Regions from separate parts of the Homo sapiens genome. Here region 2 is linked to region 1. The links come from fine-mapping of genetic effects on gene expression. A gene starts in region 1. The other region holds a variant in brackets. All regions are shown on one strand. Distances are from middle to middle.

Region 1 (14,914 bases):
GAGGGAACAAGCTGGGGCCACTGACAGGGCCCTCCCTGACCCTGAATGCATGGGAGTCATTGCAGAGCTCTGGGCAGAGGCATGCAGGAGCTGACTGAAGTTCTAACAGGACCACTCTGCTACTATGTGAAGAATGAATTCCAGAGGGCAGAGGAGGCAGGGAGACCCACGAGGAGGCTGCTGTGCCATCCAGGCAGGCAATGCCGGTGGTGCGGTGGAGGTGGAAGGAAGGGTGGAGTGCTGAGATAGAGACAGAGGAGAAGTTAAGGGTCAGGAATAATCCCAAGGCTTTTGGCCTGAGCAAGTGAAGGGAAAGTGGAGGTGAGAGGTTTGTGACTAGTTGAGGCAGAGCTGCCCACTGGCCATCCACGTGGAGAGGTGGCACAAGCTGTTGGCTGGATAGGTCTAGGTTTTGGGAGAGAAGTCCAGGCGGTGTGGGCACCTGCTGTATGACTCCCCATGTCCTGCACATAGTAGGTCCTCAGTAAATGCCTGCTTATTGGGCCTGCAGGGGACACATTACTGGCCACAGCCCAGCTCCCAGCCTCCAGGAGAGGCAGACAAGGGGCCCAGGGCCAATCATAGAGAGCCACACCCTGAGGGGCACGTGGGGCACCACCAGCATTTCTTGGGTGGCACTGTGGAGGGGAAGCTGGGAAGACCTCTTGGGCGAGGTGGTGGAAATCTTGGCAGGTGGAGATGGGTGTTGTGGGAAGGCGAGAAAGTGGAGGAGGAAGGCCCAGTGGAGCCGAGGTGAAGTGGACGGTGCAGGAGCCGAACCCTGGTTTCAATTTGGGCTCTGGGACTGTGAGCAAGACACTTAACCTCTGAGGTCTCCATTGCTGACAGGAATGCTAACTGTCCCCTTTCATGGGTTTGTGTGGGGATCAAATGAATTAATCCATGGAAACTGTGGCGAACAACATGATGGCAGGTGCTCAGTAAACATCACCTGCCTGTTAGCATTGCATCCAAAGCTGCCTGGGAGGAGGGACAGAGCACAGGGAGGGAGAGGGGAACAGCACAGGAGGCCTGGGGGACAGGAGCCTGGGGCCCAGAAAACGAGGGGATTTTATTCCCTTTGGGCGATTGGAGTCATGGGAAGTTCTGCAGAGAAAGGAGTAGATGTTCCTGTCAGTCCTTGATTAGCCTCCGCCTGTGCTCGACTTGGTACACTCCCTCCCATCCTAGGCCGGAGGGTCCTAGCCAGCAACCTGCCTCCTGGGCCCAGGACACACTCATGCGGCTAATGCTTGGTCAGTCCAGGCCTTCTGAGGCCGTTCATCCTCACAGCAGCCTCATGTGTGAGGCCGGTCCTATTATTATTATTGTTTGACAAGTGAGGACACCAAGGCACAGCGAATGTCACACAGATCAATGTCGTCTTGCAGATAGCAGGGGACAGAGCCAGGAGTCAAGCCCAGGCTGGGGATTCAACTCCAGAATCCACACTGGCCTCTCCCAGCTATGAGAATGGCCTCGGAGCCCTTTGAGGTGCCCTCAGAGCCTCGGATGCCCTCAGAGCTGGGCATTGTGTGACACATCCAGCACTACTGTTCTCCCAACAGGCAGGGTGGGGGCCATTGTGTCCACTTTCAGGGAAAGAAGCTGAAAGGTGGTGTGACTTGCTCAGGGCCCCGAAGTTTGCTTCTGGAGCAGCTGGGACCTCAGCCCAGGTCTGGGACGTCCCTGTGCTGGGTGCTTGGCAGGCACGACACATGCAATCTTGCACCCAAGCCTATTTCCGAGGTGAATACTGAGGCCCCCTCAGCCTGGAGTTATTTCTGAGGTCCTTGCTGTCTTTTGAGGAGGAAGAAAATGGATTCCCCCTCCCAGGCCCCTAGGCTTCATGTCCCAGGTCCCTTTACTTTTTCTTCTTCTTCTTCTTCTTTTTTTTTTTTTTTTTGAGATGGAGTCTTGCTCTGTCACCCAGGCTGGAGTGCAGTGGCGCGATCTCGGCTCACTGGAACCTCTGCCTCCCGTGTTCAAGCAGTTCTCCTATCTCAGCCTCCCAAGTAGCTGGGGTTACAGGCGTGCACCACCACTCCTGGCTAATTTTTTGTATTTTTAGTAGAGATGGGGTTTCGCCATGTTGGCCAGGCTGGTCTTGAACTCCTGACCTCAGGTGATCTGCCCTCTTGGCCTCCCAAATTGCTGGGACTATAGGCATGAGCCACCGCGCCCAGCCCCAGGTCCCTTTACTTCTGTTCCTCTCTTGACTCTCTCCTTTCAAAGAGGCTTCTCATTCCAAGAAGCGCCTGGCCCACTGGTCTTGGTCCCGCCCTGCTGACAGCCAGTTATCCCCTGAGCCCAGCCAGGAGACTGAAAAGCTTTACTGCATTCTCTTAAGGGCTTCACAGCCAGGAAAACCAGCAAAGGGGAATATAGTGTCTGCAGACCGGTGAGGTCCAGGGTCGCTCCATAAAAATGGATTCCTGGAAAAACATAAACCAGCAATTTACCCTGTGAATTTTATTGGCCTAAAAAAAAAAAAAAGGCTATCTCATTTGAATAATGAAGAGAGATAAACCATTCCTAGCTCCTCTTTTATTAGTGAATAAGGACACAAACACTCAACAGAAATGGAACACTCACACAAAGCTTCAGGTCTGATTTATTAGCCACTTTAGTTTCATAAAACTCAGCATTTCTATTAAAATAAAATGATGTCCAAAAGGTTTGCTTGTTTTTAAGAAAATTGCATTTAATACAGGGCAAGACTTTGTTATGGTTTATTTATTTATTTATTTATTTTTTAAACAAAGCTCAAATTCTCCTGACTTCACGCCTGTTACTACAGCTGGAGGGAAACCGATTTCAGAATCTATCTGATATGTCGGATTTCTTTGTGGCATCCACTTCATCGCTCAGCAGCCAGCCATGATGTCATAAGCCCATCAGATTTCCGGTAGGGGGAAAACGCTGGGGAATTGGAAAGAATGGATGTTTCTTACCCGTCAGGAAGGCAGGGGAAGGAGCTGGGTATGTTTGGGAGGAGAAGCCGCGTGGCTGGTGGGGGACAGGAGCAGGCTCAATGTTTGTGATATTAAATGTCAGGCAGAAACCTGAAAACCCCAGCTACCCAGATGTTTTCTCAATATCCAGATGTCTGGCACTGAGCAGACCATGCTCCCGCCTCCCAGGAGGTGCTCAGCATTTGGGCTTTGACCTCAGGTCTCCGGGTGAGCGCACACTGCCAGGAGCTGTACATCCTCGCGGCTGCCCACCCTTGGGTTTGGGATTTTTTTTCTAAATCTTTACACATAGATGACAGGAGTAACTAGGTCCAGATTTTTAAAAGCTGTTGAAGCAGTGATTTGAGAAGTTCAGTCTCTGGAACGCTATGTAAGCCAAAAAGGAGGAAAAAAAAAAAAAAACCCTCAGCCAACACACACACAAACATATGTGACTCTTAAGCCATAGGACTTAAGAACCCAAAACAAAACCAGCAAGTCTGAGAACCAGGGCTGGAGACCGACACTGAGAAGCGCTGAGCCCTCCCCCAGGAGCACGCTTTCCCCCAAATCAGAAAAACACCGCACAGCTTTGTTCTTCCTGACAAAGCCCCTTGCTTCCAGGGAGCCGACAGTTGCCAACAAAAGCACAGGGTGGAACTCATTTACACGCAGGCTGGGCTTCAAGGAGCCATCAAGTGCAGAAATGGAAATGGCTTTGCCTAGGAGCCCTGCCTCCCTGCGACTGGTAATGGGGACCCCTGGAGCCTGGGGGAGCCCCGCAGGTCACAGATGGAGCAGGGTCCTGGCCTCCTGGTGCCTGGCTAAGCATCTGCCCCACGGAAGTCACCACCTAGGCTTGTGACATCACAGCTAATTGCCCCTGACAATGAGCCAGGAACTGCAGGCCCCTCAGGGCTGCAAGCCTGAGACTTCACAGGGAGCCGGGAGGAGAGGCAGCTGGGGAGGGGCCATCGCCAATTAAAACCCAGTGCTCAGATAACAAGAAAGAAGTGGTTGAGGGGGACAGTATCGTCTCTGGTGGGGAGAGGGCAGGAGGAAGTGGGTGTGCGGAAGGGGCTGAGGGTGGGGTATTTGTGCCCTCATCTCCTACCACAATCCCCACCCCCAGCCTTTACAGATGAGGACATTGAGGCCAGGGGTGGCTGAGTGGCCTGCCCAGGGTCACCAGGCTAATTAGCAGGACAGTCAGTACAAGGGAAAAGAAAACATAGGTCTGGCACTGCCCAGGTCTTCCCTAAACTTACCTAATTTAATCCTCGCAGCACTCTGTGAGGGAGGGGTTATCCTTAACCTCAGTTTCCAGAGGAGCCAGTGGAGGCACAGAGAGCTTAAGTAATTTGCCCAAGGCCACACAGCGCATCATTAGCAGAACTTGGCCTGAACTTCTAGTCACCTGATTCTGAATCCTGTGTTCTTTCTGCCGGGTGGGGGCAGGCAGTTGAGGTTTAACTGGGAGTTGTGAATCTGATCTAAATACATATTTAAAATGCTGGTGATCCCCACAGAACAGAAGGGAGCAAATCATTGCAAATTAATTTTTTTAAAGCCATTCCAGGCAGGAGGCTTGCTGGCCAGGTGGGTGGGTGGGGAGGCTGCTTTTATTCTGTCCCCGCCAGAGCCTGAATAAAGCAAGTTGACTGTCTCTCTAGCTGTGCGTGGCGGCCACTCAGAGCTCCTGAAGTGGGGCAGTGGGGGGTGTGGGAGACTGGAGAAAAGCTTTGTTAGGCATCTGCGAGGGCTTCATCTGCCCCAGGAAAAGTGCCAGGCACACGGGTCCAATGGAGCCAGGGGAGGGAGGATTCACTGTGTATAGAAACCATGCAAAAAAAAAAAAAAAAAAAAAAAAATCAGTCCCCCTGAGCCGGGTTCCTAATTTCCAAGTGAGAGTTTCAATGTGCCGTGGGTCAACTGAGCAGCAATTGCTGGCCCAGAGACCTGACTCTGGGTCAGAGCTGTGCTGCCCAGGGCCCTGCCCACCAGGATGGGGGAGGCCAGGCAGTCACTGTGGTCCTATATCCCAGCTACTCTGGGGGCCCTGTCGGCCACCACCTTCTCCCAGAGCAGCACTTGAAGAAGACAAGTCTCCAAGAGATGGGACAGAAGAAAGAGGAGACAGGTCGGTCTGAGCTCAGGGAACAGGACTAGCGCCTGCCCTGGGCCTCCCCTGGCAGGTCCACTCTCCCTGCAGCCAGCCAGCCTTGGCACTGCAGTGGTCAGGCTGTGCCAGGCCTCTCCCTTCACAAGGCCTGCTGGTTTCTTTTACTTTGTTTCTGTGAACGGCAAATGGGGTGTGGAGCCCAGGACTCGGGCCAGGGAAGGGGAAAGAAAAGTTTCTGCCATCTGGATGCCTGACCTTGCTGAGCCACTCCTGTTTTTCTGGGGAAATCCTACCCATCTTTTATTTGCTTTGCCTACCATCCACCCAGAAAAGATTTGGGTCCTGCCCTCATGGCACTTACAATCGACAGGGGGAGCTAAACATTGACCAATTAATGGCATAAAAGTGTCCATGGAGGGGGTGGTCCCATGCTATGAGAGTCCATCATAGTGGAATCATCAAGTCAGGGAGGTCAGGGCAGGCTTCCTGGAGGAGGTGACATTTGTGCTGGGGCCCAAAGGATGAGGAGTGTTAATTGCTCTGACTCACTGTCATCCTTGCAGAGTCCCTCTCTGATATCCTCCTAAGGTCGCCTCCCCTCCCCATACCCTGGTCCCCTTCTTGACTGTCTGTTGTTCATCTATATCCCTGCCCTGGTCTGGAAGCCCTATGAGGGCAGAGGCCGGGCCTGTCTTAGTCACTGCTGAATTGCGCATGCCCGGCACTTAGTAGGTGTGCCGGACCACCTGTGGTGGTCTACACTGCCTATTTGTAACTATTTGCTGATCAAAAGAATAAACAACATGTGCAAAAGGCTTTGTAGTAGGGGAAATCCCAGGACAGGAGGATGTGGGAGTAGGAACGGGGGCAAAGGGACAGAAGGTGATGGGAGATGAGGCTGTGCCTCCCTAAGAACCTCCCTAGAAATGCGGGTATCTCCTCCAGCCAAGGGAAACCCTTCTGCCCTTCCCCTGTGGCAGAGACTGTGGTAGGGTGTCTTTCTTACCCTAGAGGAGAGAGTGTCGCATAAATACGCTGCCCCACCCGAAGCGCTCCAGGCACAGCACCCCGGACACAAAGCAGGTGGGCACTAGCACCCCCTGCCCAGTACTCTGCCACCAGCTTCCCTCCTGCGTTCATTCTCTCACCCAGTGCTGCGGGGCCACCTGGAGCTACAGAGAGGGAGTGGGATCCACCCCCAGCAGATCCGAAGGTCTCAATCCAGGGCTTCCCTGCATCCCAGCCCCAGGTCTCACCTGCACTACCCCCATGGCTAGCACCCTTTCTCCTCACTGAGGCGGAGGTGGAAGAAGAGGAGCCAGGACAAATGGGGTTTGAGTCCCTGGGTCTGATTACGAGCGTGGGACGGGTGCCAAATTGGCCTCTTCGTCCCTCAGCTTCCTCACAAGTGAGGTGGAGACTCCCCAGGCTTCCCCGGAGCCAGGGACAGAGTGAGCGCTTGATGATCCCGTCTAAAAGTCTCAAAATGAGCCCCCTTTGGTCTCGCTCTGTCGCCCCAAATCCCTCTCCCGCCTCAGCTGCAGTTTCTCCAGCTCCCGAGGAAGGGGGGCACCCGAATTCCAGCCGCTGAGGCTGGAGTTTGGAGTTCGCCCAAGGAGCTTCCGCCCTGGGATGCGGCTGAGACCCGACAGGTGGGTCCCGTCCCCGCCCCAGATGTGCGCCTGGCCCCTCGGAGGCGCGGCTCCGCCTACGCCCAGACCCTTCCTCCCCGCCAGCCCGCTCAGCGCGCTCTGGCAAACTTTCCGCGTCCAGAACCCGCCCGCGTCTACACCTGCTCGCGGTTCAACCGCAAGCGCAAGTCTACACGGTCTCACCTGCCCCCGGGTTGCTGAAGGGTGCCTCGGTCACGGGGCCGCGTCTCCACAGGCTCAACAGCTGCGAGTCCCCGGGACTGCCGACCTCAGCCTTGGGGATCCGTCTTGACCACCCCCGGATTCGGAGGCGCCCGGGCCGGACCACCTGTGCTGGTCTCCACCTCCTCGGCAACCCCGGGTCACCGGAGATGCTGCAGCTCGAGGGTCCCGCCTGCACCATCCATGGCTCTCGAGATCCTTCAGAGCGCGGACCCGGCCGAGACCCCGCGGAGCCGCTGCGCGTGGCTGGTGCCCGCGGTCGCCCCGCAGTCCCGTATGCGGCGAAACCGCCGGGGCTGCTTACCTGGCCCGCACCCTCACGCTCCCGTCCGGGCTGCGCAGCCGCTTCTCTCACACATTTTGCGATAACATCGATGGCGAAAGAAAATGTTGTAAATCCTCCTGCGGCCACGTGGCTGTCCCCCCACCCCCTTCTCCCTTTCTCTGGCCCTCAGGACAAAAAGGCCCCGCGGCCGGCCGCTGGCCACGGGGCTCTGGGCGGGCGAAGCTGGCTGCAGCGGGGCGTGGTCTGGGGAGGGGCCGGACCGGGGCGGGCGGGGCGTGGTCGGGGCAGGGGCGGGGCGCGCTGGTTCCGGCCGCCCTCCCCGCGGAAACCGGGCCTGAGACTAGGGCTCCTGTTCCAGCTCTTGATTGGTCGGTCGGCCAGCACTGCTGACGTCTGATTGGCTGAGACAAAGAAGGGACTAAGGCCGTAGGGGTGGGGGTTTGTGGATTTCATTCTTTGCCTTTTCGCTCCGGCGGTGGCCGCTGCTCTTTCGGACCTTCCTGAACTCTGCGGCCTTTTCCTCTCTGCTTCCGTGGTCCCTATCATAACGCTACCTGCATTTCCTTGTCCTTCTCTACCAAACAGCACCTGGAGATAGGGACATGGGGTTCGTGCTGCTCACCACTGTCTCCCCAGGGCCTAGCACACAGTACGTGCTCAAAACGGTTAGTTGAATGAATTCGTGGAAAATATGCATACAGGTGTTTAGAGCTATCTTTAATGTTGGCAACATCCCTAGGAGATATTACTATTCTCTCCCGAGGATGAGGAAACCGAGGTGCAGCGAAATTCGGTCACGTGGGGATGAATGGCTGAGCTGATGCTGGGACATGCTTACATTACTGGATCTCGGATCCTCTACACAGTGATGCCCTGTGCAGTGTCAGAGCTCAGTTTCCCGTCTATCAAGAGTGTTGTGTTAGAGCACAAGATAGGTTAGAAGATGGGTTATTACTGCCAGGTCCTGTGGCTCACGCCTATAATTCTAGCACTTTGGGAGGCCAGGGTGGGAGAAGCGCTTGCGCCCAGGAGTTCGAAACCAGCCTGGGCAACATGGCGAAACCCCGTCTCTACAAAAAAAAAATTAAGAAGTTTTCTGGGCATGGTGGTGTGCACCTGTACTCCCAGCTACTTGGGAGGCTGAGGTGGGAGGATCACTTGAGCCCAGGAGTTGGAAGCTGCAGTGTTATGATTGTACCACTTGCACTCCAGCCTGGGTGACAGAAAAAAAAAAAAACCCGTCTCTACTAAAAATACAAAAAATTAGCCTGGCGTGGTGGTGGGCACCTGTAGTCCCAGCTAGCTACTCGGGAAGCTGAGGCAAGAGAATGGCGTGAACCCGGGAGGCGGAGCTTGCAGTAAGCCGAGATGGCACCACTGCATTCCAGCCTGGGTGACAGAGTGAGACTCCATCTCAAAACAAAACAAAAACAAAAACAAAAAAACTTACTTCGGCCGGGCACAGTGGCTCACGCCTGTAATCCCAGCACTTTGGGAAGCCGAGGTGGGTGGATCACCTGAGGTCAGGAGTTCGAGACCAGCCTGGCCAACATCATGAAACCCCATCTCTACTAAAAAATACAAAAATTAGCTGAGCATGCTGGTGGGCACCTGTAATCCCAGCTACTCGGGAGGCTGGGGCAGGAGAATCACTTGAACCCAGGAGGCAGAGGTTGTAGTGAGCTGAGGTCATGCCACTGGCACTCCAGCCTGGGTGATAAGAGCGAAACTCTGTCTCAAAAAAAAAAAGTGTCATTTAAATGAACATGCTTGAACATGCTATACCCAGCACTGTGCTTGGCAGTATGAATGACACAGCCTCTGCTTCCATGTTAAATTCCTGGTAACCTGCTGGGCTCTTTCCCTTCCTGGGAATCCATCCCCTGAACCCCCCTCTGCACCCCCATCACAGGGGAAGTTGGAAGCACTCTGCTCAAACCATGCTGCATTGCCCACTCTGACAGTTTGGGGCATTTGGGGTGGATTTTCCTGTGGAAGTCATGGGGAGCACCGTGAAGCAGACTGACTTCCCGGCTGCTGTTCTCTGATGGAGAGGGGGTCCTTGGGATGCCCCCCCAAGTAGGTCCTTTTGATTGAGAGATGATGTATGAGATGGGATGGGGGAGAGGGCTTCCTCTGACAAAGGAAGGTGTAGAAGCTTCTCCCGGAGTTGGGCAGAGAAGGGTTAATCAACTAGAAAAATGCTGAGAGCCTGTCTCCCATAGGCAGCCAGATTGAGGCATGAAGAGGAGGAGCTGGCTTGGTGGTGTGGTGAATGAGTGCTCCCTGCATCTGTCTTCACATGGCCTTCTTATAGGGACATCAGTCATTAGATTTAGGCCCCATCCTAATCCGGTATGACCTCATCTTAAGAAGATTACATTTGCAAAGACCCTATTTCCTAATCAGGTTGCATTCACAGGTATCGGCGGTCAGGACTTCAATATATCTTTCTGGGGGACACAGTTCAACAAGGCTCAATGAGGAAAGAACATTTTGATTAGTAGGGAACATCGAGAGCAGAGGCCCCAGGGCTGCACAAGGTGGATGTCCCTGTCGCTGCCCACTGTTCTCTTGGGACTACACAGATCCTGGTGCCTAGCAGCTGTGGAAACAGAGTTGGGAGGCAGCCGACCCTCTGGACATCAGGCCTTTTCAGCTGACCCTGCCCAGCCTGGTGCCAGAGCAGGGCCCTGCCTGCCTGCCCCTCCTCCCTCTTCCTGCCTGGTCCTCATTCCCACCCACATCCCAAGATGGACAAGGACAATAAAAGCTGTTTCATAAGCAGCTGGTGATTAATTGCCAAGCTAATTAAAGAGGCAGTAATTGCACTCTGATTTCAGAGGAAGGAGTGATGTCTTGGGCAGGGGTGGGTGGTCAGCTTAGGTCTCCCTGACAAGGCAGAGCCAGAAGACAGAAAGGATTTGAAAAGCCAGGAAGAAAAAACAGGTGCACTTTTTTTTTTTTTTTGAAACGGAGTCTCGCTCTGTCTCTCAGGCTAGAGTGCAGTAGTGCAATGTTGGTCCACTGCAACCTCCACCTCCCAGGTTCAAGTGATTCTCCTGCTTCAGCCTCCCAAGTAGCTGGGACTACAGGTGCATGCCCCCATGCCCCACCAATTTTTTTTTTTTTAGACAGAGTCTCACTCTGCTGCCAGGCTGGAGTGCAGTGGCACGATCTCCGCTCACTGCAACCTCCGCCTCCTGGGTTCAAGCAATTCTCCTGCCTCAGCCTCCCTAGTAGCTGAGACTACAGGCATGCACCACCACACCCAGCTCATTTTTGTATTTTTAGTAGAGACAGGGTTTCACTATGTTGGCCAGGCTGGTCTCGAGCTCCTGACCTCAGGTGATCCTCCCTCCTCAGCCTCCCAAAGTGCTGGGACCACAGGCATGAGCCACTGTGCCCATCCGAAGCACCCTCTTTCTAGAGGTGCACCTGTTGGCTGCGCACAGTGGCTCACACCTGTAATCCCAGCGCTCTGGGAGGCCGATGTGGGTGGATCACCTGAGCTCAGGAGTTCGAGACCAGCCTGGCCAACATGGTGAAACCCTGTCTCTACTAAAAATACAAAAATTAGCTGGGTATGGTGGCACGCACCTGTAGTCCCAGCTACTTGAGAGGCTGAGGCAAGAGAATCGCTTGAACCTGGGAGGCTGCGGTTGCAGTGAGCCAAGATTGCACCATTGCACTCCAGCCCAGGCGACAGACAGAGACTCCATCTCAAAAAAAAAAAAAAAAAAAATAGTGGGTGCTTCAATCATAGCTGCACATAGCTGCAATATTTCATTTGACAGAGTCAGATGGGGGACTTAGATGCTTAAGCTTATCTCTGTACTTTTCCATGTCTTCGAAATATTTCATTAACATCCACACACACACAAAAATGGCAGGGGAGAGGTTAAGTGTTTCTAAATTCTAGTTTGGGATTTATAAATGGCTTCAAATACCAGTGTGCCTTACTTTACACAGTGGAGAGGGTCTTAAAATTCTGCGTCAATTGAATCCCGTTGGCCTACCCAGTAAATCTTAACGCCTCTGATGCTCTAGCTTCATTTCTGATTGATTTTCCCTGGCAGAGGTACCAAATTCTTTGCTTTAAGTGTCAGGCTCTCTCTGTCAAGTAGTTAATGACCTATAAAGCACTTAAAACGTACTGGAGGAGATGCGATTTGGAGGCACCCTGCAGTGTATCCTCTCTTATTGTCGGTAATCACCCCTCATTTATTTGCTCTTATTGGTTTGGAATTTGCTATCAGGTTTTCCTAAAGCCAAGCCCACCAGGAATGGTCCAATTCTATGTGGGCCCAGATGGGTGCCGGGATTGGAACCTAGGGGCAGTGGGCAGCCAGTGTGGCCTCTTTCCTCACGAGCCCTTCGGCTTGGGTGCCCTGGTCATCTCATGGCCACACATTCAGCGGCTCTGCCTCTTGCCAGCTGAGTGATCTTGAGCATTCAGTGCCCCCCTCCAAGCCTCACTTTCCTCTTCCACACTGCCCCAGAGCTGGTGCCTGCCCCTGAACAACTGGAAGATGACTCCAGCCTGGTGAAGTCAGTGCTGGGAGCCGTAGAAGAGGCCCAAGGTCAGGGTGAGCATGGAGGTCATGACCGAGGCAAGCTCCAGGGTCAGAGGTCATAGGAAGCATCCCCAAGGAGCACAAAACAGGGTGGGCCACTGACCTCGGGGCAGAAGAGCCTCTCAGAGAGGGGCCCAGCCTGGGAGGCAGAATAGGCTCTTCTAGGAGGGAAAGTGTCTTCATTTTCTTTTCTTTTTTTTTCCTTGAGACGGAGTCTTGCTCTGTCGCCCAGGCTGGAGTGCAATGGCGCAATCTTGGCTCATTGCAACCGCCATCTCCCAGGTTCAAGCGATTCTCCTGCCTCAGCCTCCTGAGTACTGGGACTACAGGCATGCACCACTACACCCAGCTAATTTTTCTATTTTTAGTAGAGACAGGTTTCGCCATGTTGGCCAGGCTGGTCTCAAACTCCTGACTTCAGGTGATCCACCTGCCCTCAGCCTCCCAAAGTGCTGGGATTACAGGCGTGAGCCTGGCCAGTGTCTTCATTTTCTATGGCTGCTGTAACTAATCACCACAAACCTGGTGACTTAAAACAACACACGTTATCCCTATTGAAAAGCCGGGAGAAAAAAGAAAGAAAAAAATTATTTTTTAAAAACCCACAACACGACACACATTTATTTTCTTACAGTTCTCAAGACCGGAAATTCAGAATCAGTTTCAACAGGCAGAAACCAGGGTGTTCACAGGGCCACGTTCCCTCCAGAAGCTTTGAGGAGTATCCGTTTCCTTGCCCTCTCCTGCTTCTGGGGCTCTGTTCCCCGGCTGTGGCCTCTTCTTCCATGTTCAAAACCAGCGGCGTACCATCTTCAGACCTCTTTCTCTGCTTCCATCATCACACCACCTTCTGCCTTTGGTCTGTAATCTCCCTCTGCATCCCCCTTTATAAGGGCGTTTGTGATTGTAATGATCCAGGATAACCTCCTCATCTCCAGATCCTTAATCACATCTGCGGCGCCTTTGTCATATAAGGTAACATTCACAGGTTCCAGGATTAGGATGTGGATATCTTGGCGAGGGTGGGATTCTTCAGGCTACCACAGAAAGCCACCAACCAAAGTGGTTCAGATCATGGATTCTGAAGCCACTGCTGGGGCCTGAATCTCAACTGCACCATCTGCCAGCTAGGTGACTTTGGGCGAGTTGTTATATCTTTTTAAGGCTCAGTTTCCTCATCTGTGAAATGAGATCAATGCCTACTTATTGCCACAGATAAAAACTGAATAGGCATTTAACCATCTGACAGGTAGAGGGAGTTTCATGCGCCAGAGCCTGGACCTTGAAAGAGGCCCCAGCAGGGCCCTTCTGTAGGAGGAAAGGAGGAAGGGCAGGAAAGGGTACGGGCAGGGCAGGCTGGGTGGAGGAAGAAGCTGAACCACGTCCCAGGGAAGTGTGTGTGTGCTCTGTCCTAAGGGTAATGAACAGGGGACAACAGAAAGTGTTTAAGTAGGGCAATTTTTTTTGGTTTATTTTTGTTTTGTGTTATTGAAATGCAATTCACATATTATAAATTTACCCTTTTAAAGTGTACAATTCAATGGATTTTAGCATATTCAAGAGGTTGCGTAACCATCACTGCTGTCGCATTCCAGAACATTTCCATTACCTCATAAAAAATCCCCATACCCATTAGCAGTTCTTTTTTTTTTTTTTTTTTTTGAGACAGAGTCTTGCTCTGTCGCCCAGGCTGGAGTGCAATGGCGCTATCTCGGCTCACTGCAAGCTCTGTCTCCCGGGTTCACGCCACTCTCCTGCCTCAGCCTCCCAAGTAGCTGGAACTACACGGACCCGTCACCACGCCCGGCTAATTTTTTGTATTTTTAGTAGAGGTGGGGTTTCACCGTGTTAGCCAGGATGGTCTCGATCTCCTGACCTCATGATCCGCCCACCTTGGCCTCCCAAAGTGCTGATTACAGGTGTGAGCCACCGTGCCCGGCCAGCAGTTCTTTTTTTTTTTTTTTTTTTTTGAGACAGAGTCTCACTCTGTCGCCCAGGCTGGAGGGCAGTGGCACCCTGTCGGCTCACTGCAACCTCAGTCTCCTGGGTTCAAGCAATTCTCCTGCCTCAGCCTCCTGAGTAGCTGGGATTATAGGCGCCCACCATCACGCCCAGCTAATTTTTATATTTTTAGTAGAGATATGGTTTCACCATGTTGGCCAGGCTGGTCTCGAACTCCTGACCTCGATGATCCACCTGCCTTGGCCTCCCAAAGTGCTAGGATTACAGGCGTGAGCCACCGTGCCCGGCTGTCTGGATAATTTTTGTATTTTTAGTTGCGATAGGGTTTCACCCATGTTGGCCAGGCGTGGGCCACTGCGCCTGGCCCCCATTAGCAGTTCTAAAGCTCTCTGCAACCTTGAACTCCAATCTTGAGCTCCAGGCTTGAACCCAGGAAGAAGGCAGGGGTGCCTTGAGCACCACAATGACCATCTCTATTTCTGGAACTGGTCACTTGGCTGTGGGTCCTACCCTTATCCCTGGGACTCAGCTGCACAGACTTGTCCCAATGGGTCAGGAAGGACAGCAGCTCTCCTGACTCCACCCCCGTCACATGACATGCCAGGGTTCCCCACCCATAAGGGGCAGGAGATTGTGGGGCTGCTGGAGGAAGTTGTGGGGGCATTTGAGGCTGAGTGCTGGCTAAGCAGCAATGGCTTATGCCGGTAATCCCAGCATTTGGGAGGCCAAGGTGGCAGGATCGCTTGAGCTCAGGAGTTTGAGACCAGCCTGGGCAACACGGCAAAACCCGGTCTCTATGAAAAATACAAAAAATTAGCCAGGTGTGATGGTGCGCACCTGTAGTGCCAGCTACTCCGGAGGCTGAGGTAGAGGACCGCTGGAGCACAGAGGTTGAGGCTGCAGTGAGCTGTGATCGCACCACTGCACTCCAGCCTGGATGACAGAGTGAGACCCTGTCTCAAAAAAAAAAAAAAAAAAAAAAAACCAAACCGAAAACACATTAAAATTTTTCTTTTTGGAAAACCATCCAATCAGCCAGAGAGACACAGAAAAAAAGGAGCTTCTCCAGTGCTCCCCACACACCCCCGCCACCACCCCTGGCCGGGCTCTGTTCTGCTGGCTACTTGGGGGAGTCTCAG
Region 2 (14,914 bases), 39 kb after region 1:
CTTAGACATTGCGAACAGCTCGGGGGCAGGAGTGTCATGGATGCACAGAAGAATGGACAGTTAGACAGAAAGGAGGAGATGAGCCACAGGCTGGCACGGGTGGGGCCACGAAAGGCCAAATGCCATGGTGTCTACCCGAAGGGCAGTGGGGGCCACCAGGGAAGTGGCTGCAGTTGCATTGTATAAACCTCCCTCTGCTGCCACAGATGCGGGGTGGACTGTAGGTTGGGGCTGGCAAGGGGAGGAGGCAGGATCTCCAGGAGAGAGGCCTCCTGGGGGTGCTGGGGAGGCTGGGCCGGGGCAAGGGGTCCCGTGGAGGAGGGAGGGAGCCTTCTTGAAAACTCACATTACATTATGGGGGTGGGGCTGCTTTGCTCCCTGCCCATCCCTGCCCACTGAGCGCTCTGTCCTCGGGGCCAACATTTGCCTTTCAACTGTGATTTTCAGATGAATCACGAGTGTGGCTTCTCCCAACACGCCCAGCTCTCTGTGGTCCAAGTCTCCCCTCCCTAGTAGATGGTGGTGGGACAGGGAGTCACCAGGCCTGGGCTGAGATCCAGCTGTGCACACCAGGGGTGCTGCCATCAGCAGCTCAGGAAGCCTGTTGGGCCTCAGCTTCCTGCTCTGTAAAATGGGAGCAATAATGTGGCCTTGCCCACCTCACATCCTGGCCACTTCTGCCTTATCTTCCAGGTCCTCGCATGCATTTATCCTGTCATTCCTTCCACAAGCATGCACTGCGTGCCAGGCTCCCCCAGGTGCTGGGGACACTAAGTCCCCCGCCTACAGGGGCTATGCTATGGCAGGACAGACAGCATAAAGACAGACGCCAGGTTGTGACAGAAGCCAGGGTGTGGCAGCAGAGACCTATATTCCAGGAGAGGGTGATGGAGCCCAGCCTGGGACGCCTAGGAAGCCCCGGGGAAGGGGCTGGATCCGGGACAGACTGAGTGCAGGGCTTGCTGAGGGATGGATGTGGGGAGAGAGAAGAGCCGAGCACAACTCCAAGGCTTGGGCCTGAGCATCTGGAGCACGTGTGCTGGGACGCAGAGGACTCGGGGACTGAGCACTGCTCTGGACGCATGAGGTGGCGGCACCCTCAGGCCCCCACGTGGGGCTGTGGACCATGGTCTGGAGCTTGGGGAGGGGTCTGAGCAGCAGCATCTGTGGACAGGGAATGCCACCCGCAGAGCAGAAACTTTGCTGCAGGAGCACACACAGAGCGCGGAAGGGCTCGGAGGAAGGGGCCCGGGATGTGCCAGAATTTAGAGGTCACCAAGAGGGGGGTGACCCAGCAAAGCTGCCTATGGGGTGGGACAGAACAAGGAGGGCATGTTGTCCTGGTACCAAGAGGCGGAGTGTGCTGTGAGGCGGGAGGCCTGCTGTGCCCAATGCCATGAGAGGATGAGGATGAGGACGGGCCAGCCGCAGGGAGCGCCTGCTCTGGGAACACCACTTTGACCCCTCAAGTCAGGCAGGAGCCCCCAAACCTACTCTCATGGCAGGAATCATGGCGATTGCTGCCTTCTCAAGAGAGAGACCTCTCCTGGTACTCAAAGCGCCTCAGACCCACACCGGTCCCTCTGTGCCTTCTTTTTTTTTTTTTTTTTTTTTTGAGATGGAGTTTTGCTCTGTCACCCAGGCTGGAGTGCAGTAGCGCAATCCAGGCTCACTGCATCCTCCGCCTCCCAGGTTTAAGCAATTCTCTGCCTCAGCCTCCCGAGTAACTGGGATTACAGGAGCCTACCACCATGCCCGGCTAATTTTTTTTTTGTATTTTTAGTAGAGACAGGGTTTCACCATCTTGGCCAGGCTGATCTTGAACTCCTGACCTTGTGACCACCCACCTCGGACTCCCAAAGTGTTGGGATTATAGTCGTGAGCCACCACGCCCGGCCCCCTCTGTGCCTTCTACAACCCCATGACACAGCTCCTCTGTTTGGCATCCCCACTGGGGAAACCGAAGCCTGGAGCACCCAGCTCAAGCTCGCAGAGGTTGGTAAGTGGCAGAGCTGGAACTGAACGAAGGCCCAACTCTGTGCTTTTAAGCCCCCTGCTGATTTCTACTTCCTTTCTTCCTGAACAGGTCATGACAGCATAACAGCTGATCTCCCCAGCTAAGAGTTTAGCTTGCTGTGTTCCCAGCCTCTGTACAGGGCCTGACACATAGTAGGTGCTCAGCTCTGTCGCCCAGGCTGGAGTGCAGTGGTGCAATCTCGGCTCATTGCAACCTCCGCCTCTCGGCTAATTTGTATTTTTAGTACAGGTGGGGGTTTGCCATGTTGGCCAGGCTGGTCTTGAACTCCCGACCTCAGGTGATCAGCCAACCTGAGCCTCCCAAAGTGCTGGGATTATAGGCGTGAGCCACTGTACCCAGCCTGAATGAATGAATTTAATGACAGGTGTGAAAGGGCCCTATAAATGGTAAGCCCTTCAGCAAATGTTTATTGAGGGCCTACTATGTCAGGGGACCTGTGCTAGAGGCTGGGGCTTGGGCAGGGAACAGGCCGAGAGGCACCCGGCCTCACACAGCTGGCCTTGACGAAGAGATGGAGTAAGCTCAGGGGACCTACAGATGACGAGGGCAGAGGCAAAAGAGGTGTCAGGGAAGAAAGCCATGGTGTCAGAGAGGGCCTCTCTGAGCTGGGTACATGGGAGCTGGATCCAGAAAGCAAAGAAGGAGATCTCTGGGAGGGATCCCAGGTGCCGAAATACAGAGAACAAGGAGGGCCTGGGAAGCCTCTGCTGTTGAAGGGCCTGCGGGCAGGGCTGACTGTGCCACCTGTGGGTCATCCATTCCTGGGCTCTACCCCCATCCCTCCTGCCCCAGCCCCTCCGGGCAGACTTCATGCATCACCAGTTCTTACCACCCTCCAGCTCCCATCTTCCCGGGGGTGTGAGCTCCGTGCCCTCCCTGCTGGCCTTTGCAGAAGTCAGGTGCAGGCATTGCCCCGGGAGGCAATGCCATTCTTCCAGACTTGCCCCAGTGGAGTCGCACACTCTGCTCTTTGTCCTCACTGTCCCCAAAGCTGCCAACCGCGGTTCGGGTCCACCCTCTGCCACTTCTGGTTGGTAGTTTCCAGCTTCAATTCATTTATCCACCACTGCAGGTGCTCCCGGGTCCTCTGTGCCTGGAGGGAGCCTCTTTCTCCTGGACTCTCTCCTTACCCCATCCTGCCGCTGCCATCAGGGGCATCCACAGCGAACCAGGGGCTCCCAGGGCTGCTTTAGCAATGCAAACGCAGCAGCTGCTCTGGCCTCCGGGTTCTCTTTCCCTTCCAGCCCAGGCTCTCACATCAGCCGTTCTCCCCAGGTACAGAGGGTGTGTGGGCAGCAGAAAGCTTCTGCTGTGTGTCAGGCACCCAACTGGTGCTTCAGAAGTGCTCTCCTGCAGATCTCCTGATGTCAGGAGTTTGAGACCAGCCTGGCCAACATGGTGAAACCCAGTCTCTACTAAAAATACAAAATTAGCCAGGCGTGGTATCGCACGTCTGTAATCCCAGCTACTTGGGAGGCTGAGGCAGGAGAATCACTTGAATCTGAGAGGCGGAGGTGCAGTGAGTCAAGGTCGCACCATTGTACTCCAGCCTAGGCAAAGAGTAAAACTCCATCTCAAAAAAAAAAAAAAAAAAAAGTGCTCTCCTTCCATGTTCACTTAGTGGGCAGGGTCTACCCTCCTTATCCCATTTCCAGAGGAGGAAACTGAGGCTCAGAGAGGATCCAAACCTGACAAGAGGGCTTGCTTTCACCCTGTTGGCACTTAGCCTAGTGATGGCACACACGAGACACTTTGCAGACATTCCTGGAAGCACAGGCAGGGTGGTGAGAGGAGGAAGAGGAAGGCAGGAGTCACTGAGGCCATCCTGGAGGGGAGGGAGCAGGGACCAGAACTCAAGCCCAGGGCTCTGAGCTTTGTCCCCTCCTTTACTAATACTGTGATCCAGTTTCTACGGTCCGGTCCCATCTTTGTAGGGCAGGAGCTGACGTTGCTCAGCAAATGGGGGGCTCAAGGTTAAGATCTCGCCTGGCCCCGTTCTGTTCCTTGCCTACTGTGTTTCGTGTACACAGAGGGCACTTGTGTGGGTCACTCCTGTAAGCCTGGGTGGGGGTCCGCAGGCGGGGGGAGTCCCTTGTCACCTGTGCCTGAAGCCCAGTTTCTGTGTCCACGCCCCAGCTCCTCCCCTGGCCTCATTTCGAGTGCCTGGGGACTGCTCGGTAGTGAACAAATCGAGAGATACCCTACTTGCTATCATCATGGGAAAAGCCGAAGCAGGGAGGGAGGGCATATATTGAGGGCGAGAGTCGGGGGCGTGCAAGAAAGGCCCAGGCCGGGCACATGGCAGGTGCATACTCGTGCTGGCTTGGGGAGGGAGGCAGCCTGAAGCCAGTGGGTCTCCATCCTAACCCTGGGCTCATGAAAGCTGAAGGAAGTGTTTCCCACCCATCTCGGGTCTTCTTGGCTCAGCTCATCCCTCTGGCTGGGCTGGAGTCAAGGCGGAGCACAGAGCCCTCCTGGACTTCACAGTGGTACCCAAGGCCTGCGACTCACTTCACCCTGAAGCTCATTAACAGGGCAAGGTCAAAGTAGGACCATTCGCGCCAGTGTCAGACCCATGGGAAGGAGGGGAGCCAGCATCGTGGCTGAGGCCCTGACCCAGACGTTGGCTCACAGAAGGCAGGAAATGCAGCCCCTGGGGCTCCCGGGGGTGAAAGGCGCCAAGCTCATGCTTTTTTCGTACCTCAGAGCCTTCTTGGAAAAGCGATGACATCCCCAGCCTCAAGACAAGGATGGGAAACTAAGGCACGGGCTCCAGACCCAGGCCTGCCACTTGCTCTGGCTCAGGCACGCTCTGACCTTCAGCTTCCTCGCCTGCTCTTCCAGTCCACAGCTCACCTGACACCTGCGGGGCAGGCGCAGATCCAAATACCCCCCGGCTCGCGCCTCACCCCCCGAGGGAGCAGAGCAAACCACTTGCGCGAGTCCCTTTGGGTCCGCTTCCAGCCTTTCATCTGCTTTGCTCACCACTTCCCTGAGGCCACCCTGATCCCGGCTCCTGTCATCTCTGCCTGGACTTTGCAGTAGCTCCTCACTGGGTGTCCCTCACTCAGACAGAGGGTCCATCAGAATCTAGGTCTGATCTCACCCCCTTCCTTGTATCACATAGAGTAAGGGCTAAAGTCCTTTCAATGCCCCCTACCTGGCTGCATCTCCTTCCACTTCCCATCCGTCTACTCTCTGTGAGCTCAGGCTACACCAGCCACATGGGCCCCCATGCAGCTCCTGGGACACCCCATGCCCGCTTCTGCCTCAGAGCACCTGCATCCACTATTCTCCCACTGGCACGCCCAGCCCTGATGTGCACCTGCCTCCCTCATTCCAGGTGCTTCTCCATTCCCATGCCGACCTCCCTTCACATTGCTGAGTTTCCCCCAATAATTATCCCATCTGATATATACGACCTACTCACTGGGTGGTGCATCGTCGGTCTCGCCTCAACAGGAATGCCAATTTAATGAAAACAGATTTCCTTTCTTTTCTTTTTCCTTTTTTTTTGAGACAGAGTCTCACTCTGTCGCCCAGGCTGGAGTGCAGTGGTGCCATCTCGGCTCACTGCAACCTCCACCTCCCAGGTTTAGGTGATTCTCTTGCCTCAGGCTTCTAAGTAACTGGGACTACAGGCGTGTGACCACCACACCCGGCTAATTTTTTGTATCTTTAGTAGAGACAGGGTTTCACTGTGTTAGCCAGGATGGTCTCGGTCTCCTGACCTTGTGATCTGCCTGCCTCGGCCTCCCAAAGTGCTGGGATTACAGGCATGAGCCACCGCACCCGGACCTTCCTCTTTTTTTTTTTTTTTTTAGATGGAGTCTCGCTGTGTTGCCCAGGGGCTGGAGTGCAGTGGCGCCATCTCAACTCACTAAAATCTCTGCCTCCTGGGTTCAAGCTATTCTCCTGCCTCAGCCTCCTGAGTAGCTGGGATGACAAGCATGTGCCACAATACCCAGCTAGTTTTTGTATTTTTAGTAGAGATGGGGTTTTGCTATGTTGGCCAAGCTAGTCTTGAACTCCTGGCCTCAAGTGATCCGCCTGTCTCGGCCTCCCAAAGTGCCAGGATTACAAGCATAAGCCACCGCACCCAGCCTTTTATTTATTTTTCTTGAGACTGTCGCCCAGGCTGGAGTGCACTGGTGTGATCTCAGCTCACTGCAACCTCCACCTCCCGGGTTCAAGCAATTCTCCCACTTCAGCCTCCCAAGTAGCTGGGATTACAGGCGCCTACCACCACACCTGGCTAATGTTTTTGTATTTTTAGTAGAGATGGGGTTTCACCACGGGGGTCAGGCTGGTCTCAAACTTTCTTTCTTTTTTGAGATGGTCTCCCTCTGTCGCTCAGGCTGGAGTGCAGTGGTGTGATCACAGCTCACTGCAGCTTTGACCTCCTGGGCTCAAGCGATCCTTCCACCTCAGCCTTCCAAGTAGCCCAGGACCACAGGTGCATGCTACCATGACTGGCTAATTTTTTAAAATGTTTTGTAGAGATGGGGTCTCTCTCTGTTACCCACGCTGATATTGAACTCCTAAGCTCAGGAAATCCTCCTGCCTCAGTCTTCTAAAGTGCTGGAATTACAGGTGTGAGCCACCATACCTGGCAGACAGATTTCTCTTTTTTTTTTTTTTTTTTTTTTGAGACTTAGTCTTGCTTTGTCACCCAGGCTGAAGTGCAGTAGTGTAATCTCACTACAACCTCCGCCTCGCAGGTTCAAGCAATTCTCCTGCCTCAGCCTCTGGGATTACAGGCACCTGCCAATGCACCCAGCTAATTTTTGTATTTTTAGTAGAGATGGGATTTTGCCATGTTGGCCAGGCTGGTCTCGAACTCCTGACCTCAAGTGATCCACCCACCTCGGCCTCCCAAAGTGCTGGTATTACAGGCATGAGCCACCGTGCTCAGCCTCAGATAGAGATTTCTTGATTTCAGTTTGGTCATTGCTGTATCCCTGGTGCCTAGAACAGGGCCTGGAATGTAGGTTTTCAGTGTTTGTTGAATGAATGAACACATAAATTCCCGTGGAAGAGAGCTCTTCTCTGGGTGTGGGTAGGGTCTTGGCCTTCAGATGCAGGGGCTGAGCCTTTTTTGACCCAGGGAGACCCCAATGATGGTGCCAGTGTTCACGCCTCACACCCAGGGCTGTTGCTGACTCAGCTGCCCCCAGGCTTGGCCCCGAAGGTCCCCGGAGGGTGGAGCAGTAGCCTGAGCTGCTAACAGCAGCCTCTGACGAGCCCTGACCCATCAGCTTTGCACCCCTGAGCCTGGGAGAACCTGGTACCCGCTGGGCACTGCATCCTTTCACTCAGCATGCTGTCTGAGCACCACCATGTGCTGGGCAAGGAGCCCCTGAACAAGACTGCCTCGGCCTCTGGCCTCCTGGCACTTGCTGCCAGGCAGGGAGGGTGGGCCAGCATCGAACAGGAATCCATAGGGCTGGGTGATGATGAGCATGAGGGGAGCCCCAGCAGAGAGGTTCCCTCCCCAGGCAGGTGCCACCCACAGTGTGAGCAGGAGCCGTCCAGGTGAGGAAATGGACCAAGCCACCCCATCCTGCACTCTAGCCCTGACTGCAGTACACTTACTATGCGACCCTGGGCAAATCACAACGTCTCTGAGCCTGACCTTCCAGAGCTGTGAAATGGGAAAAAACCTCGTCATGGAGCTATGCTGGAGGGTGTTTGGGAGGGTGTGTGGGAGGGTGTGTGGGAGGGTTGCTGGAGGGCGTGCGAGAGGGCGAGTGGGAGGGTGTGTGGGAGAGCACCTGTGTGAGTGGCTGGTAGCCCCTTCATCCCTTCCAGCCTGCTGGGATCAAGAAAACCTGAGCAGGGATTCCCTAATCTGGGGAGCTAGAAATGGTAGGCAGGAGGGCCTGCAGCCTCTCCCAGGTTCTCAGAGGGACATGGGACCTGGGAAAGCCTGCAGAGCCCTGGTTTCTTGCAACAAGATCAAAAGGCACCCCATGGCAGCACAGGGAGTGGCACAGGAGGGATGCCCCCAGCCCTGGTGCAAGGGGCCACGAGGGCCACCTGTTACAGATGTGGATGTGCCCTCACCAGGGCCCACCAAACGCCCTGCAGAGGGCAGGCGGGCAGCCGGTGGCGTGTCGGGTGGAGGGGCTGCATGGCTGTGAGCACTGATCCCGTACCTTGTTCCAGAGCAGCAGGGCCGTGCCCACTACACTCAGGACACTCAGGAGGCCGGTGAAGCCAAAGAGCAGGAGCTTCTGTGGACTCTGCGGGGGCTCTCGGTACCCTGCGTCTAGGAGGAAGCGCAGGGGAGCAGAGGGGTCAGTGACCCAGGAGAAAGCGGGGCACACACACCTGATGTTCTCCCTCACTCAGGACCCTGTTTTCAATGCTACCCCGCCAACACGCTCCACACCCCACTAGGCCCCCTGGGAGCCAGGGTTCGGGCCTTCATTGTCCCCTCACTCCTTTTCATGCTCACTGCCTTGCTTCTCTGTAAGGACAGGGGCCATTTGCTCTTCCGGTGCCCCTGCCCCCGTGACCTGGCTCCCCTGTGGGCTGCTTGTAGGGCCCTGAGCGAGATGTCTCCCCTCTCGGGGCCTCTTCTTTTCCCTGTGTGAGGTGGTGATAATACGGGTGGATGTGGCTAGGGCTGAAGGAGGCGG[A/G]TTTATCCTGGGACTGACAGGGGGCTGCACCCAGGCTAGGTGAGGCCCAGCCCTCCTACCCCATGCCATCCCCAGTCCCTCCTGCTGGCATCCAGTCCTCCTTCCCCTCACCCCATCCATCCATCCGACTGGCAAAAACACACGGAGTGCCAACCACATGCCAGGCACATGAGCATGATTTCCCCAGCACTGCCTATTGTCAGCCACCAGCCCATATGGGCACCATCTCCTTCAACCTCATCCAAGTCCTTGGAAGGCAGAGGATCGCCATGAAGACCAGGCCCAAGATCACATCGGGCAAGCAGCAGGACAGAGGTTCAAACCCAGGTCTATGGGATTCCGAAGCCCCCAGCTCCTTCCAGGGGATCGCAGAGGTAGGTCAGAGAATCAGGGCTTTGGTGATGGGCTCACTCATAACTTTTGGGATCATCACTCCTTTGAGAATGTGATGAAAACTGGCTGGGTGTGCTGGCTCATGCCTGTAATCCCAACACTCTTGGAGGCTGAGGTGGGCGGATCACTTGAGGTCAGGATTCGAGACCAGCCTGGCCAACATGGCGAAATCTTGTCTCTATTAAAAATACAAAAAGTAGCCAGGTGTGGTGGTGGACATCTGTAATCCCAGGTACTTGGGAGGCTGAGGCATGAGAATCGCTTGAACCCAGGAGGCAGAGATTGCAGTGAGCCAAGATTGGGCCAGTGCACTTCAGCCTGGGTGACAGAGCGAGACTCTGTCTCAAAAAAAAAAAAAAAGAGAGAGCATGATGAAAACTAAAGATCTGTCTCTGGAAAGGTGTATTATACATGAGCCAAGTGCTCACATACACGAGGCCCCCACAAATACATACATGCACATACCTAGTTCTGCAGAAGTTCCCCCACCATGATGCCCATGGCACACTGAGACCAAGGGCCCAAGGGAGCTCTTTTAGGTCACCTGCCAGCGGCGTTCAGGAGCAGATCTGCATGCCCGGCCCTGCCCTTTCCACACCCAGATGGAGCCCTGGCACAGCCGTAGGCCGGGGCTCCCTGAAGTGGGTCTGCCTGCTTTGCCAATGCTGGTAGACAAGGCAAACCATTCTCTATTTCTTTTCTTTTCTTTTTTTTTTTTTTTTTTTTTTGAGATGGAGTTTTGCTCTTGTCACCCAGGCTGGAGTGCAATGGTGCGATCTAGGCTCACTGCAACTTCCCATCCTGGGTTCAAGAAATTCTTATGCCTCAGCCTCCTGAGTAGCTGGGATTACAGGCACCTGCCACCATGCCCAGCTAATTTTTGTGTTTTTAGTAGAGACGGGGTTTCACCATGTTGGCCAGGCTGGTCTCGAATCCCTGACCTCAGGTGATCCACCCGCCTCAGCCTCCCAAAGTGCTGGGATGTGTGAGCCACTGCGCCTGGCCCCATTCTCTATTTCCGATCCAAAGTCCCAAACTGCCATTTGAAACCTCTGTGTCCTTTGCCCTGGAAGAGCCACAGAGGAAGCCTTACCTCTGACCAGGATGAAGGTGCCGCTGCCTCTCACCGTGGAGTGTGGCCAGTGGACAGAGCAGTAGTAGGTGCCAGTGGCCGATGCTCCCGGCAGCACAAGGGTGACCTGGCAGTCCAGGGTGTGGCTCTGGTTCTCTGTGCCCAGTCCAGGGTGGCAGTTTGTTGGCTTCTTAGGGCTCCTCTGTCCCTGGAGATCTTCATGAAAGTAGCTGACTGTGAAAACCTTGAATTGGGGAGTGTATGGATAGGTGATCCTGCAGCTGAAGGAGATAGCTGTGTTGGCCAGGGAGGCCATGATGGGCAGGCCGGTGTGGGTCACTGACTGTCCTCCTGGAGGGGAAGCAAAGGGAGAGAGCAACAGGTCACTTGAGGCTGCCTCAGTCCCACCCACTTGCCTGTTAAGGCTCACGACCGGGTGCGGTGGCTCACACCTGTAATTCCAACACTTTGGGAGGCCGAGGCAGGCGGATCACTGGAGGTCAGGAGTTCAAGACTAGCCTGGCCAACATGGTGAAACCCCGTCTCTACTAAAAATACAAAAATTAGCCAGGCTAACTTTTTTATGCCCATAACCCCAGCACTTTGGGAGGCTAAGGTGGGCCGATCACCTGAGGTCAGGAGTTTGAGACCAGCCTGGCCAACATGGCAAAACCTGTCTCTATTAAAAATACAAAGATTAGCCAGGTGTGGTAGTGTATGCCTGTAATCCCAGCTACTCGGGAGACTGACGCAGGAGAATCGCTTGAACCTGGGAGGCTGAGGTTGCAGTGAGCAGAGATCATGCCACTGCACTCTAGCCTGGGCGACAAGAGCAAGAGTCCGTCTCAGAAAAAAAAAAAAGAAAGACAAGTCTCGTGCATCGTGTGAGCTTACCTCTGCAGGTGCAGCCCCTACCTCTCCTGCACTTGCTGTGTGCCGGAGTTGTGCCAAGCATATTACGCACACCACTCTACCTCTCCTAATATACCCCAAGGCAAAGTGAGAGCCCCTGTTTTATGAAGAAGAAGAGTCTGAGGGTCAGGGAGTTGAAGCACTTAGCTCCAGATTCCTCAGCAGGTAGAGAGTGGAGCTACAACCCCATCCAGGGCTGGGGAACACCAGAGCCTGCGCTCCCAACCCCTCTTCTTCCCAAAGGCCAAGAGGCCACCTGGGATCAAAGCACAGGCCTGAGAAGAGAGAAAGCTGGTGATGGATGAGAAATAAAGAAGGAGGCAGGAAAACAAAATAAAGAAACCCAAGCGTTTCCTGGCGGTAGACAGAGAGGGAGGCAGGTCTGCCCACAGTTCTCCCCGTGCCAAAGTAAGGAGGCATTCAGGCAGCGGGAGACACAAACCTCTCCCGGACTCTGGGCTCGGAGAGGATTTGTCAGGTTTTTTACAGTATAACAGGCAACATCCTGAGAGCAGTTTTTCCAACAACGCAGAGGTGCTCCACGTGGGGCCATTTCGGCTGTGATCATGATGTCAATGACCATGACAAAGCCAGTTTTGTAGGAGCCACCCCTCCCCCCACTCATCAGAGGCACCTCAGAAAACAGTTTGAAAATTCCCAAAGCAGCAGCCCTGCCTGGGGGGCTCTAACCCCTGCTGCAGGCCTCTGAGATGCTGTTTGGATCCTGGGCTGGGGGCAGCAGCCGCCCCCTGCCCCAGACTTCAGCTGCACAGGCCCCTCGGCTTTAGCGCTCCTGGGTTCTCCAGGCCCCTCCTTCTCCAGCAGCTGAGCAGCAGACAGTTCTAAATTGAGGTCGGCAGCCAGCAGCCAAGAACATGCAGGCCGGATTGTTAATCGGGAGAAGATCGTGTCTTTGAGATGCTCAGAGGAGCCGCAAGATTTATTTTATTGGGGAAAGAGAGGTGTGGGCCCTGCCTGTGGTGTGGGGCTGGAGGGAGGCCAGGCTCATCTCTTCCCAGGTCTCTTCAGTTCAGCTCTGAGCCAGAGCTCTGGGAAGGGGGTCCCAAAGGGAGGCCAGCCTTCTGGAAGATGCGGGAACAGAGATGGAGTTGGCCCTGTGCGTCAGTTAATCCCTCAAAATTCTGGCAATGCTGATATTTTGAGCTTCCTGTTGAGCCACTAAAGAGACACCCCCAGGCTGGGCAGGGTGGCTCATGCCTGTAATCCTAGCACTTTGGGAGGCCGAGGCGGGTGGATTGCTTGAGGCCTGGAGTTCGAGACCAGCCTGGCTAACATGGTGAAACCCCGCCTCTACTAAAAATACAAAAAAAGAAAAAAAAATCAGGAGCCGCGGTGGCTCAGGCCTGTTGTCCTGTCACATAAGAAGGCAAGGCCAGGCATTTGAGACCAGCCTGGACAACACAGAAAGCCCTCATCTATATAACAACAATAATAACAACAACAACAAAAATTTGGCCAGGGCTGTTGGCTCATGCCCGTAATCCCAGCACTTTGGGAAGCCAAGGTGGGCAGATCTCTTGAGGTCAGGAGTTCAAGATCAGTTTGGCCAACATGGCAAAACCCCGTCTCTACTAAAAATAAAAATATTAGCCAGGTGTGGTGGTGGGCACCTGTAATCCCAGCTACTCAGGAGGCTGAGGCAGGAAAATCGCTTGAATCTGGGAGGTGGAGGTTGCAGTGAGCCAAGATCGCGCCACTGCACTCCAGCCTGAATGACAGAGCAAGACTTCGTCTCAAAAAAAACAAAAAGAAGAAAGAAAGAAAAAGAGAGACACACCCTCCCTCAAAGAACTAAAGGCACTCACAGTTCCAGGGAATCGACTCACATGTCGGCAGTCACAGTGGGTTCGACTTGTAATTGACATAACGACACTCGCTTGTGAAATGTCATTCCAGGGAGCTGGCACCCGGGCCCCCTCCAGGGCTCCCCTCTGGTGGACGGAGCAGGGGGGATTTTACCCTGGACTTTGTATCTCCGGACTCTACTGCAGGATTGCTGCTGTTTAATGATAACATTACATTCATTTTGTCATAAAACTAAGAGCCTTGCTTCAGGGCACGGACTTATCCGAGATGGGACAGGGGCAGGGTAGGCATATAGAGATGGGGGCTGTTATATTGTCCCCCAGGGACCCAGGTGGGCTGGGATGGTGGCGCGTGTCTGTAATCCCAGCTACTCAGGAGCCAAAGCAGAAGGACCTCTTGAAGCCAGGAGTTCAAGGCCAGCCTGGGCATCAAATTTTTTTTTTTTTAAATTAAAAAAATTTTTTTTTAGAGACAAGAGGGGTAGAGTGAACCACAAATGACATCACCACCGACCCTGCCCAGCAGCCCTGCACAGCACTCACAGGCCACTGCCCCCTCTGTGTACCTACCCTGTGGCCCCCTCGACCTGTGACCTCCATATCCTCACCCGGGGCCTCCTGCTCCTCCTCACAGTGTATCTAAGAGGCCACTCCAGGGGGAGGGCAGATACACTGTCAGCACCATGAAACCTTCCTGCTTGTCCTGGGCAGGAAGACTTCAGACCAATTTCTTTAAAAATTCTCCCTGTCTGAGGTATCCTTCTAGAAAATGATGAACTCTGCTACTGCAATTAAGCCGATCTTTACAATTCCAGGGAAATCTATAAAAACAGACGTCCGTTGTTCTATATTCTTTTGGGATTCATTTCTTTAAGGTCACCGAGTTAGGCTCATGACAATGCACTGCTCTGGCTTAGATCAGCCACAGCGAGGAGAGGCTTCGAAACGAGAACCTCAGACCTCTGATGAAACTGCTGTGTCCAAAAAGTAAAGAGAGGAAGCCGTCTCTGACGAGCTCAGTCAATAACAACGTCCAGTCTGGAGACGTCAGGCCAAAAAACCCGGGGGAGGAGAGGAGGTCCGCAGTTACAGCCAAGACCTCTGGGTTCTGGCCTGCGAATGTAGCTCACCACCTCCCCTGCACCTACACCTTCCTTTCTTTCTTTCTTTCTTTTTTTTTTTTTTTTTTTTTTTGAGATGGAGTCTCGCTCTGTCGCCCAGGCTGGAGTGCGATGGCGCGATCTCAGCTCACTGCAAACTCTACCTCCTGGGTTCACGCCATTCTCCTGCCTCAGCCTTCCGAGCAGCTGGGACCACAGGCACCCGCCACCATGCCTGGCTAATTTTTTGTATTTTTAGTAGAGACGGGGTTTCACCGTGTTAGCCAGAATGGTCTCAATCTCCTGACCTCGTGATCTGCCCACCTCGGCCTCCCAAAGTGCTGGGATTACAGGCGTGAGCCACCGCGCCCGGCCTGCACCTTCCTTTCAATGGGGCATCAGCACCCCAGAGCTGGAATCCTGCAACTGCCCAGCTCCCACCCCATCTCCTGGACCCGTGCCTCCCAGAGGCCCCTTCAGGGGTGTAGGCTGTAGAGGTCTAGGCCCTAGTTGGCTGCCAACTAGAAGCGGTCCCCCGTGAAGGCACAGTGCTGATAGGTTTCACGGTCATTTCCAAGTCCACAAATTCTTTTCAGCTGTCATTTGTTTGTGCCTCCCACAAACATTGAAGGGGTACCAGTTAGGTCACAGGCCCTGTCCCAGACCAGGAGGGGCTCCCTGCCGTGGCAACATCCCCAGTCCAAAAGGGAAGGAGCAGAAAGAGCCTGAGGCAGAAGGGCTGGTATGGGGAGCATTGAGTTTGCCTGGGATGAGGTTGGGGTGCAGGGTTTGTGGCCCGGGGGTCTAGAGGGTGTCCATGACCCAGAAGTAGGAACCCACAGACAGAAGGAAAAGAAAAATTACAGGAATTGTATCCTGGCTTGGTGTGACACAGGTCCTATGTCAATTAAACACCACGACGATCCTAG

Direction of the effects. Positions count from the first base shown, and alleles are read on the strand shown. Sizes are in standard deviations (SD) of each study's normalised expression.
For the expression in cerebellum of the gene that starts at base 7,405 in region 1, allele A in region 2 goes with a higher level than allele G (small effect, 0.36 SD a copy in GTEx).

The links. PIP is the estimated chance that this variant, and not a neighbour inherited with it, causes the effect. A credible set is the group of variants that fine-mapping cannot tell apart.
Region 2: its variant is the best candidate, but not a certain one, in a credible set for the expression of LINC01315 in cerebellum (GTEx, PIP 0.87).

Annotation. Positions count from the first base shown.
Region 1 is chr22:42,361,804-42,376,717 of GRCh38, forward strand. LINC01315 (long intergenic non-protein coding RNA 1315) reads right to left here and starts at 7,405. Exons shown (of 2, transcript NR_120597.1): 1 at 7,255-7,405; 2 at 2,597-2,922. It overlaps LOC124905126 (a long non-coding RNA gene), which reads left to right and starts at 7,689. Exons shown (of 2, transcript XR_007068114.1): 1 at 7,689-7,901; 2 at 9,659-10,023. RefSeq lists enhancers at 1,334-1,987, 3,498-4,340, 5,725-6,659, 6,952-7,071, 7,440-7,734 and a silencer at 7,442-7,601.
Region 2 is chr22:42,401,239-42,416,152 of GRCh38, forward strand. It overlaps NFAM1 (NFAT activating protein with ITAM motif 1), which reads right to left. Exons shown (of 6, transcript NM_145912.8): 2 at 10,169-10,498; 3 at 8,197-8,309. Among named protein-coding and RNA genes, the nearest start is that of NFAM1, 24 kb to the right of the region's middle. The variant A/G (reference allele first, on the strand shown) is at 8,683.